2 separate regions of the Homo sapiens genome follow, and region 2 is linked to region 1. Evidence: fine-mapped expression QTL. Tissue or cell type: whole blood. Region 1 holds a variant in brackets; the other region holds the start of a gene. All regions are shown on one strand. Distances are between the middles of the regions.

What was found. PIP is the estimated chance that this variant, and not a neighbour inherited with it, causes the effect.
Region 2: it holds the start of PRDM2, and the variant in region 1 is the best candidate, but not a certain one, in a credible set for the expression of PRDM2 in whole blood (TOPMed, PIP 0.73).

Annotation. Positions count from the first base shown.
Region 1 is chr1:13,759,048-13,763,285 of GRCh38, forward strand. All of the region lies in intron 6 of PRDM2 (PR/SET domain 2), which reads left to right. Among named protein-coding and RNA genes, the nearest start is that of PRDM2, 61 kb to the left of the region's middle. The variant A/C (reference allele first, on the strand shown) is at 1,572.
Region 2 is chr1:13,697,954-13,702,191 of GRCh38, forward strand. It overlaps PRDM2 (PR/SET domain 2), which reads left to right and starts at 2,235. Exons shown (of 10, transcript NM_001393986.1): 1 at 2,235-2,347. RefSeq lists a silencer at 1,988-2,757.

The sequences.
Region 1 (4,238 bases):
CTAATTTCACTCTTAGTGAATTAGCTGTCTGTTACCAGTTATGGAGAGTAGCAAAGGATTGGCCGGTTAAAAAGAAAACTAATTCAGCATTGCTTAGGCTAAAATTCCCCTACCCTTTTTTTTTTTTTTTTTAAATGAAAACTACAGCGATAAACAATCTTTTTTCTTGTATTTATAAACCTACCTCTTGGGGCAGTCTTTTGTAGATTTCCTGAAACACCACATGCCAGAAAAATGAAGGCAAACTGGTTTGTTCACCCATGTTTAGAACCCCAAGACGGAATTATGTGCAATGTTTGAAGTTGCAATGCCGTTTAGAATGGGCAACAATGCAGTTTCTGAGCCTTTTGTTATTCTTTTTACCATTTGGCCTCTCAGGTTCAGTTTTCATTCTGTTGCCAGTTTGAGATGTAGGATATGCCTTTCTGGTTCTGTTGGCTACATTTTTGTCTTTCATGTTTGGGATTATCAGAGCCTGCTTCTCTGGAATAAAGAGATTACTGGCCATAAGCAGAATGTCTAAGGGCCTGTGAGAAATGAGAGTTCCTACTGTCCACCTCTTGTCTTGGTGCTTTTGCCATGACGATGTTAATGTTGGTCATAGCTGGGTCCCAAGTCTTCTAATCTTCTGTAGCAGGTTTACGCTGTGGGCAGCACCATGATGATAATAGTTGTAGTTTTGATCTTTTATATGTGGAACAATCTCCTTGACTGTTTACACACGATGGACTGTAATTTTTGTAGGATTAGCACTAATGTTGAAATTATAATTTCCCTTTGATATCCAAGAAAATAAGGAAAAAGTATCAATAATAATAATAAATATCATATGTTGTCAGTGGTCTCAATCTTGGATTTTTGGACCAGGGGTTTAAGATTCCAAATCTACTTGATTTTAGGAATTTTGTTAATTGCTAAAGGTGTGATCCACAGTGTCCTTCCCTTGTTAGGTGGGTCATGGGCTTGTTTGATAAGATCAAATTTGAGTGGTAAGCTTAATACCTATTTTTAGTTATTATAAATCCAGGAATTCAGGATAGAAGATAATGTAAATTACTGTTTGTATGCCAAGATAAAATTTGGGGTTGTAGTAGAGTGCAGAAAATATTAAATCAAGAAAAAGTGATACTTACTCAATTTCTGTCTGACCCTTTTAAGTTTTAAAGACAGGATCCTATAAATCTCATGGGTGATTGTCAGAAAGTACATGGAATTGGTGAACTTTGTTTTCATAGCAAATGATTCTTGTGCTTCCCCCTACCTTCAGTTTCTATGCTAAGCACATTAAAAAAAAAACCTGCCTAAAAATTTTTTTTAGTGGGTGGGAATATACTGCTTGGGCTTCAGTGTTGCTTTTGCATTAGATGCAGATTGATCAGTACTTTGAAAATGGATAGCTTGTTTAAAATGAGCCTGGAGTGTGCGTGTATGTTGGCTGGAGGGGAGAGGGGGAAAGTTGCTGACCCAGCTATACCTTGAGTGTTAGGAGATGTGCAGCATGCAGAATTTATTGTGATACACCAGAACATAGCTTTGGAATTAAGAGACCAGATTCACATACCAGCTGCACC[A/C]GTTAATTGCATTGTGACTTCGGATGGGTTACTCTCCATGTTTTGGTCCTTAATTTTTCTGTCTATAAAATGGGAATATGAGCTACCTACCCTACAAGGTTGCTGTGAGCATTAAGTGAGAACATTATAGGAACATTCCTGGCACACCAACCTTTGGTTCATCCCATTGTAATGGTGGGCACCAGCAAAATACATTCTGTGGTAACTGCCGTTCTCTGGCCGGTTGGCACACTTCTAAAAAAAAAAAAAAATGAGCAGTTTCACCATCTTGTGTAACAAGTTCTCTTAAAATCCATATATTTTCCTTTTGCATCGTGGAGTGAATTAAGTGGGTTTCAAATTAGTTAAGAGTAAAGGGCCTGTTTGGATCTGCACCTAAATAGCTACATCGTGGCACTAAGGAATTCTTCATGTGCAAGAAACCTGCTTCTCTCTTAAAAGCTGTCTTGTTTCACTGTTAACCAAACGAGGACACCTGTGGTGACATAGGTTGGTGCATTAGGTAACTCTTGGAATTTGATTTGTTCCATTTGCCTGGGCAGAAGCAAACACGTCTCACTGTTTGCTCGTCTTACCTTTATGTGGTCCAAAGCACTCATGACAGTTATAAGAGGATTTTATGTGAATGAATTTTTCTTAACATTTTCTTAGGTATTAAATTATCAGACAGCCCTGAAAGTAATTGTGTGGGAGCAGTTTCAGGGCTGTATATGACAAATTTTTTTTTACAGTCTTTCTGGGTGTGAAATCAGGAAAAAAACAAATGGACGAAAGGACAGTTTTCTTAGAAGGTGCTAATTAATTTGACGATACCAGTTTTCCGGGAAGAAATGTCCCGATGATCTGTGCAGCATCTTGACTGGGCTTTCTGAGGAGTTGGAGTTCTTTTTCAGCAGTCGCACAGGTACATTCCTTCTGTTGATACACAATGCTTGTACAAACTCACAGCTTAACTTTGTAATAACACAGGAGTCCCTGACCCCCAGTGTTGTCTACCAAATGTTGTGTTTACGTCCGTTTGTGACTGGGGAGAAGGGCCTTAGGTGTTACTTGATACTCAGAAGTCTCCTCTCCGAAAGATTAAGAACCACCACAGTGAACCAGTATGTTCAGTTTTCAAACTCAAGCAGAGACAGTTAGGAGCAATAAAATCAGTAGGTTACAGACTTTAAAAATGAAATACACTCACAGCTTACACTGTTAGAGCATTAGTATATACTGATGTGGACATGAGTGAGTGAGTGACAGAATTCTCTCTAACTTCTGTCTTCATTGGACTTGTACATTTTTATAATAATATCTGGGTGGGATCCTGTGAATCAGCGGAGAACAAATGAACAAAACAAATGGATGAATTAGGAATTGTTAGTGGAAGCAGAACGCCATTGTCTTCATATGAAGGAACATATGCCGACAATTTAGATTTGTAGGCGTGCACTTTCTGTAATTTGTTTAGTAGCATCTGTGGATACTCCTTACAATCGATTCCATTTATTGAGTCTGTGCCAGGCACTGTGTGGCATTCGTTTTGTGCATTACCTCATTTACTTCTCTTTGACAACAGTATCCGATCAGTATTACCAGTATATATCAGAGCTGGTTCCCATCTGCCTCGAATGGGATTATTTCTTGTTAATCAAATCATGGCCCAAGGGCTGCGCAGCAGTGTTTCATGCTATTTCACTTTTATGGGTATCTGTTTTTGTGGACCAAACTTACCTTGAGGACCTACTATTGTGAGTGCCACCACCACACTGGGGAAGGGGACAAGAGCCTAGCCCACTGTCTCGCCTCAGTTAGCGTCAGCTCTTTGCAGGGAGCACGAGTAACCTTGGAGACACAGGAACCTGCTGGGAGCAGGTGAAATGAGTGCATAGGTTGAGAGACCCTTTCCACCAGCCATTGGACGCTGGCCTAGGAAGGACTCCTGTTTCAAGCCCTAGTCCTCTGTGAGCCTTCCTCCCAGGCTCAGTTTGTTCCCTGTGGTCATTACTTTACCCCTATATTGGCAAAAAATAGAAAAGCCTCAGCTCAAGGACAATGTGGGATAATCCTTGGAGACCAGCACCAAGGAAGATTGTGTGCTTCTGAAAGGCTCCATTCTCAGTGCCAGAGCCTGTTAGCAAGGCCAGGTCCACAGCGCGCGCTCCTCAGGCTTCCCGGCTTTACCTGGCTCCCTTGGTGGATGGAACTTTACATCCTCCCCTGCGATTATGTGGATGATGTGTCGGTCCGTGAGTGCTCATAGAGGCACAGCTGCAGGCAGGAGGTGGCTGGGGCACAGTTGAGATCCTCCACAGCAGTGGGATCTGTTTGATCAGCAGCAGTGGAGCTGAGTCTGAAAACCTGTGCTGGAATAAAAGTGCCTCATTTCATGGTGGGCCGAGTGATTAGGTAGCTTAGTATCTCTGTAAATGCTCTTGTTTTTATAAACCTCTGCTAAAATGTGGCATATTCAAATGCCGTTGCTTAGTCTTTGCATTTTTAAGAGAAGCAAAATAAAGGCTGAGGTAAAGAATGATGATCACAGCCAACTGCCAAGACATCGACCCTTAGGTTAATACTGGCAGGCATTCAACATGATTGTTTAAATTAGATATTTGATTTAAATAATGATGGGTATAAGAACCAAGTGCGGTGAACAGGAAAAAGAATATGGGGTATGTG
Region 2 (4,238 bases), 61 kb before region 1:
CCAGAGGGAGCCCGGCCCTGCTGCCACCTTAATTTTGGCCTAGTGATACTGATTTTGGACTTCTAGCCTCTAGAGTTGTGACAGAATAAACTTCTGTTGTCAGGGTTGGGATAATTTGTTACAGCAGCCACAGGAAACTAATATAGCCAGTCACTTTGGATTAATGAATTAATAACCGGAAAGACAACTACTGGCTACTCTGTTAACCAACCATCTAGTATCCATTCTGGTTCACCGTGCCACTTCTGATTTAACATCCTTTATTTTCCTTTTGCATTCTATTGAATGCCAGGTGGCCCATAGCTTTTCTCTTAAAATGGTGATTTCTATGTCAGTGTTTTGATGGTGGATGGAACAGTGGGGTCTCCCTATTTTCTTCATAGATACCCCAGATAATTTCGATGCATGGATCCAGTTGGAAGGTATTAATCTAGGTAAGGGGTGCAGAAGTCTGATGACTTTGCTCCACAACAGAGAATACTACTTTGATGACAGGCACGTGGTATCTCCCAGATCTAGGGTCTCTTTTCCTTGAATAGCGGAAGAAATAAGCAAACCCTTGAGGTTTGATTTATTTCCTTATTTTCTTAAGCCCTGTCACTTCTCAAGGCCTTAATAAAATTTACTCTAATGAGGTGATCTTCATTTGTTTACTATAACCGACTCGATCATCAGCTATAGCCTCATTCTTTTTTTTTTTTTTTTTTTTGATACTGAGTCTCGCTCTGTCACCCAGGCTGGAGAGCAGTGGGGCATCTTGGCTCACTGCCAGCTCCGCCTCCCGGGTTCACGCCATTCTCCTGCCTCAGCCTCCGGAGTAGCTGGGACTACAGGCGCCCGCCACCACGCCTGGCTAATTTTTTGTATTTTTAGTAGAGACGGGGTTTCACTGTGTTAGCCAGGATGGTCTCGATCTCCTGACCTCGTGATCCACCCGCCTCGGCCTCCCAATGTGCTGGGATTACAGGCTGAGCCACCGCGCCCGGCCTAGCCTCATTCTTTTACAATAAGATAACATGATATATGTTGATACAACACGTTTTCTTTCTTTTTTGAGATGGAGTCTGTCTCTGTCGCCCAGGCTGGCGAGCAGTGGGGCGATCTTGGCTCACTGCAAGCTCCGTCTCCTGGGTTCACGCCATTCTCCTGCCTCAGCCTCCGGAGTAGCTGGGACTACAGGCACCCGCCACGTCGGCCGGCTAAATTTTTGTAGTTTTAGTAGAGACGGGGTTTCACCGTGTTAGCCAGGATGGTCTCGATCTCCTGACCTCGTGATCCACCTGCCTTGGCCTCCCAAAGTGCTGGGATTACAGGCGTGAGCCACTGCGCCCGGCCAACACGTTTTCTTAAGATTAAACCTGTTACATAAATGATCGTTCATAATTTTTGGAAGCACACCTGCCCTTAGTATCCTGTTTTTCCACTGGGTGCTTTCTGCAGATGGCCAACGTAGCCATCACATTCGGATTCTTCCTGACTTCATTCTCAGAGGATTACTTTATCTTGAAGTGCTGAAGGCTCCAGGCACCATCTATAACGACAACTCCCAACTTTCCAGCTCATCTCCAGCCTGTGCTTCTCCCCGACTCAACTCATTTTCAACCACGTGCTAGGCCTCCACCCTTGGATGTCGAAGAGCCATCTCCAGTTCCACCCAGTTCATCTTCATCAGAACATCTATGAGTCGTCGTCTCTGCAGTCCATTTGTTTGCCCGCTTGGGAACAGCAAGCTCCTTAAGGGCAGGACTACTACCGCGCTCTCAGAGGCGCTGCACTGGAACATCGCGGGCACAGGGCAGCGTTGGTCACTGCTCCTGGGTACTAGGGCAGCAAATAAACCCAGCAGCTGCGTCTGTCTGCCTGGAGTTGGATCTTTTTGGTATAGATCCAAACGTAGAAGTATAAGGTCTACGTTTATGTACTTGTCAGATATTTAATGACCTCCAACGATAGACATGCCCCCCCAACACCTCCTTCAGTCTTTTTGATTCTTTGAGAATCTTTGAACCACGCAGGATCCTAGCCCTAGGGTGCGGTCGGACTTGCCGCGACGCCAGCCGCCGGGGTTCCTTCCCGAGGCGCCGCCATGGGATCCGCGGTGACCTACGAGGGGCGGCTGGGTGGTGGCCATTGGGCGACGGCGCAGGGTCAAGGGCCGGGCTCTGGGATCGTGGGGAGACCGGGGGTCCCGGAGCCCCCCAGCCCCGCAGGCCACTGCCTCGCCGCCCGACGTCACTTCCGACTGGAGTCAAGATGGCGGCGGCGCGGCCGCGGGCGCCGGGGCCGGCGAAACAGCGGCGGCGGCGGCGGCCCTCGGTGCTCTGAGGCGCTGGCGCGGCGGGCGCGGGTAAGGAGTGGCGCGGGTGGGCGGCCTCTGGGCTCGCGCCGGGACGCTGGTCCCTCCCCCCGAGGAGCGCGGCGGCGACGGCGGCGGCGACACGCTGGGGACCCGGCGCCGCAGGGATGGCCGGGTCGGCGGACGCGCCCCCTCAGAGGTCCCGGGCGTGCCGGGGGCCCCGGGACGAGGCGCGGGCCTCCGGGTCGGTGGCCCCGCGGGTGGGTGGCGGCGCCGGGCTCCTCCTTGTCGGCCGTGGGGTCCCTGCGGCGAAGTTCGGGATTCGGTTTGTCGCCGTGAAGAGCCGCGCGCCCCGCGGGGGACGCGTGCGGGCTGCAGAGACTGGCCGGGTGCGGGCGGCGGTGGGGCCACCTGGGGCCCCACGTGGGGCCGGGCGCCGTCCCAATTGTCAAGCCGCTGTGCTTTTCTCTTTTGTGTTCCCACTGAGTGTGTCTTGCACATTTGCACTCCAAATTTGTTTTGTGTCTTGCGTCTTTGTGTTTCCCAAATAGTTTTTGTGTGGTTTTAACCTGGAGATTGTCTCCCTCAATGTTCCCATAGACCCACGGGTGTATGTGTGTGTGTGCGCACGCGCGCGTGTGTGTGTGTTACAGACGTGCAACTCTGTTACTAATTTTGCTAATAAAGCTATCAATGAACCTCTTTTGATGGTGGTAAGTGAGACATGAAGTAAACCTAACAGGTCAGTGTCATTCCCCAAACCTTCGTGGTTCTTTCGATCCACGCGTGAGCCACCGACCCTCCGGGCTTGTAGCTTTGTGTCGGGCTGTGAGCTGCGGCAAAGACCCCATAGTTAACCGGGAAGTCCTGATTTCCTTAACTACGCAGCTGAAATTTCCCCTAACAGAAATTTCGTGCTGGCCCCTCACTTTTCTTTTAGTGTTGTATTGAGATTTTGGGTGTATTTGAGACGTGGAACGTCTTTTGCTGAATCCCAGTAGGTCCTTAGATCCCTTTAACCAGACACTAGAAGAATCATTTTTACCCCAGAACTCGACTAAAATGTTTAAGTTTTTGTTTACTCCAGGTTTATTAAAAGTGACCGAAACTTTTAACAACAAATGGAACTCTTCAATGATTTCTTTTACAATGGTACACACTTCGCCTCGGTTTGATCAGTTGTGTCCAAGTATTAGAAAAATGTAGGCCTTTTAAAAAAAAACATGATAGGAAATTTACATATATTAAGGAGGAGGAACTGAGACACACTGTCATACGTTCTTTTTTAGTAGGGTTCTGTGTTTTTGAGATGGTCCAAACTGCCCCATCACTCTTGAGGCTTCCGGACTAACACTTATTGGCCAAATTTTTACATGTAGAATCTTAGTTTAGCCTTGAGATGACCTTTAAAGATCATTTTTATTAAACCCCCTCATTTCGAGCTATGGAAACAAATCAAAATTCACAGTGGAACTAAAACTCATTTACATTTTCTGTGATTCCAGGGCTCTTTTTACTCAACACATCTGTTTTGGTTTGATTGAAATAAGTTAATACATTTTAAGTGCTTAGAAAAGTGCCAGAACATGATAATACTGCTCAGTAAATGTTTGCTTTTGTTGATTCTGAAGGTGGTTTCTTTAATTGAAAGGTTGGTATGTTCAGGTTTGTTTTTTCCTTATTTTGTGGACAGGGCCTGAAACAGTACAGTTTAAATCTGTAAGAATGTATTAATTTTGTAAGTACAAAACATAACAAAAGATTCTCACTGTAGAAAATTGGAAAGTAGAGAAAAGCACAAAGAAGAAACAGAAATTGGGCATAACCTTCCCCTCTTCAGATAACCATTGTTAACGTTTGGCAGATCTTCCTGTCTCTCTTGGTGTGGATATGCGTATTTCTTTCCTTATTTTACAGTTCATTCACATATATATATATTTAT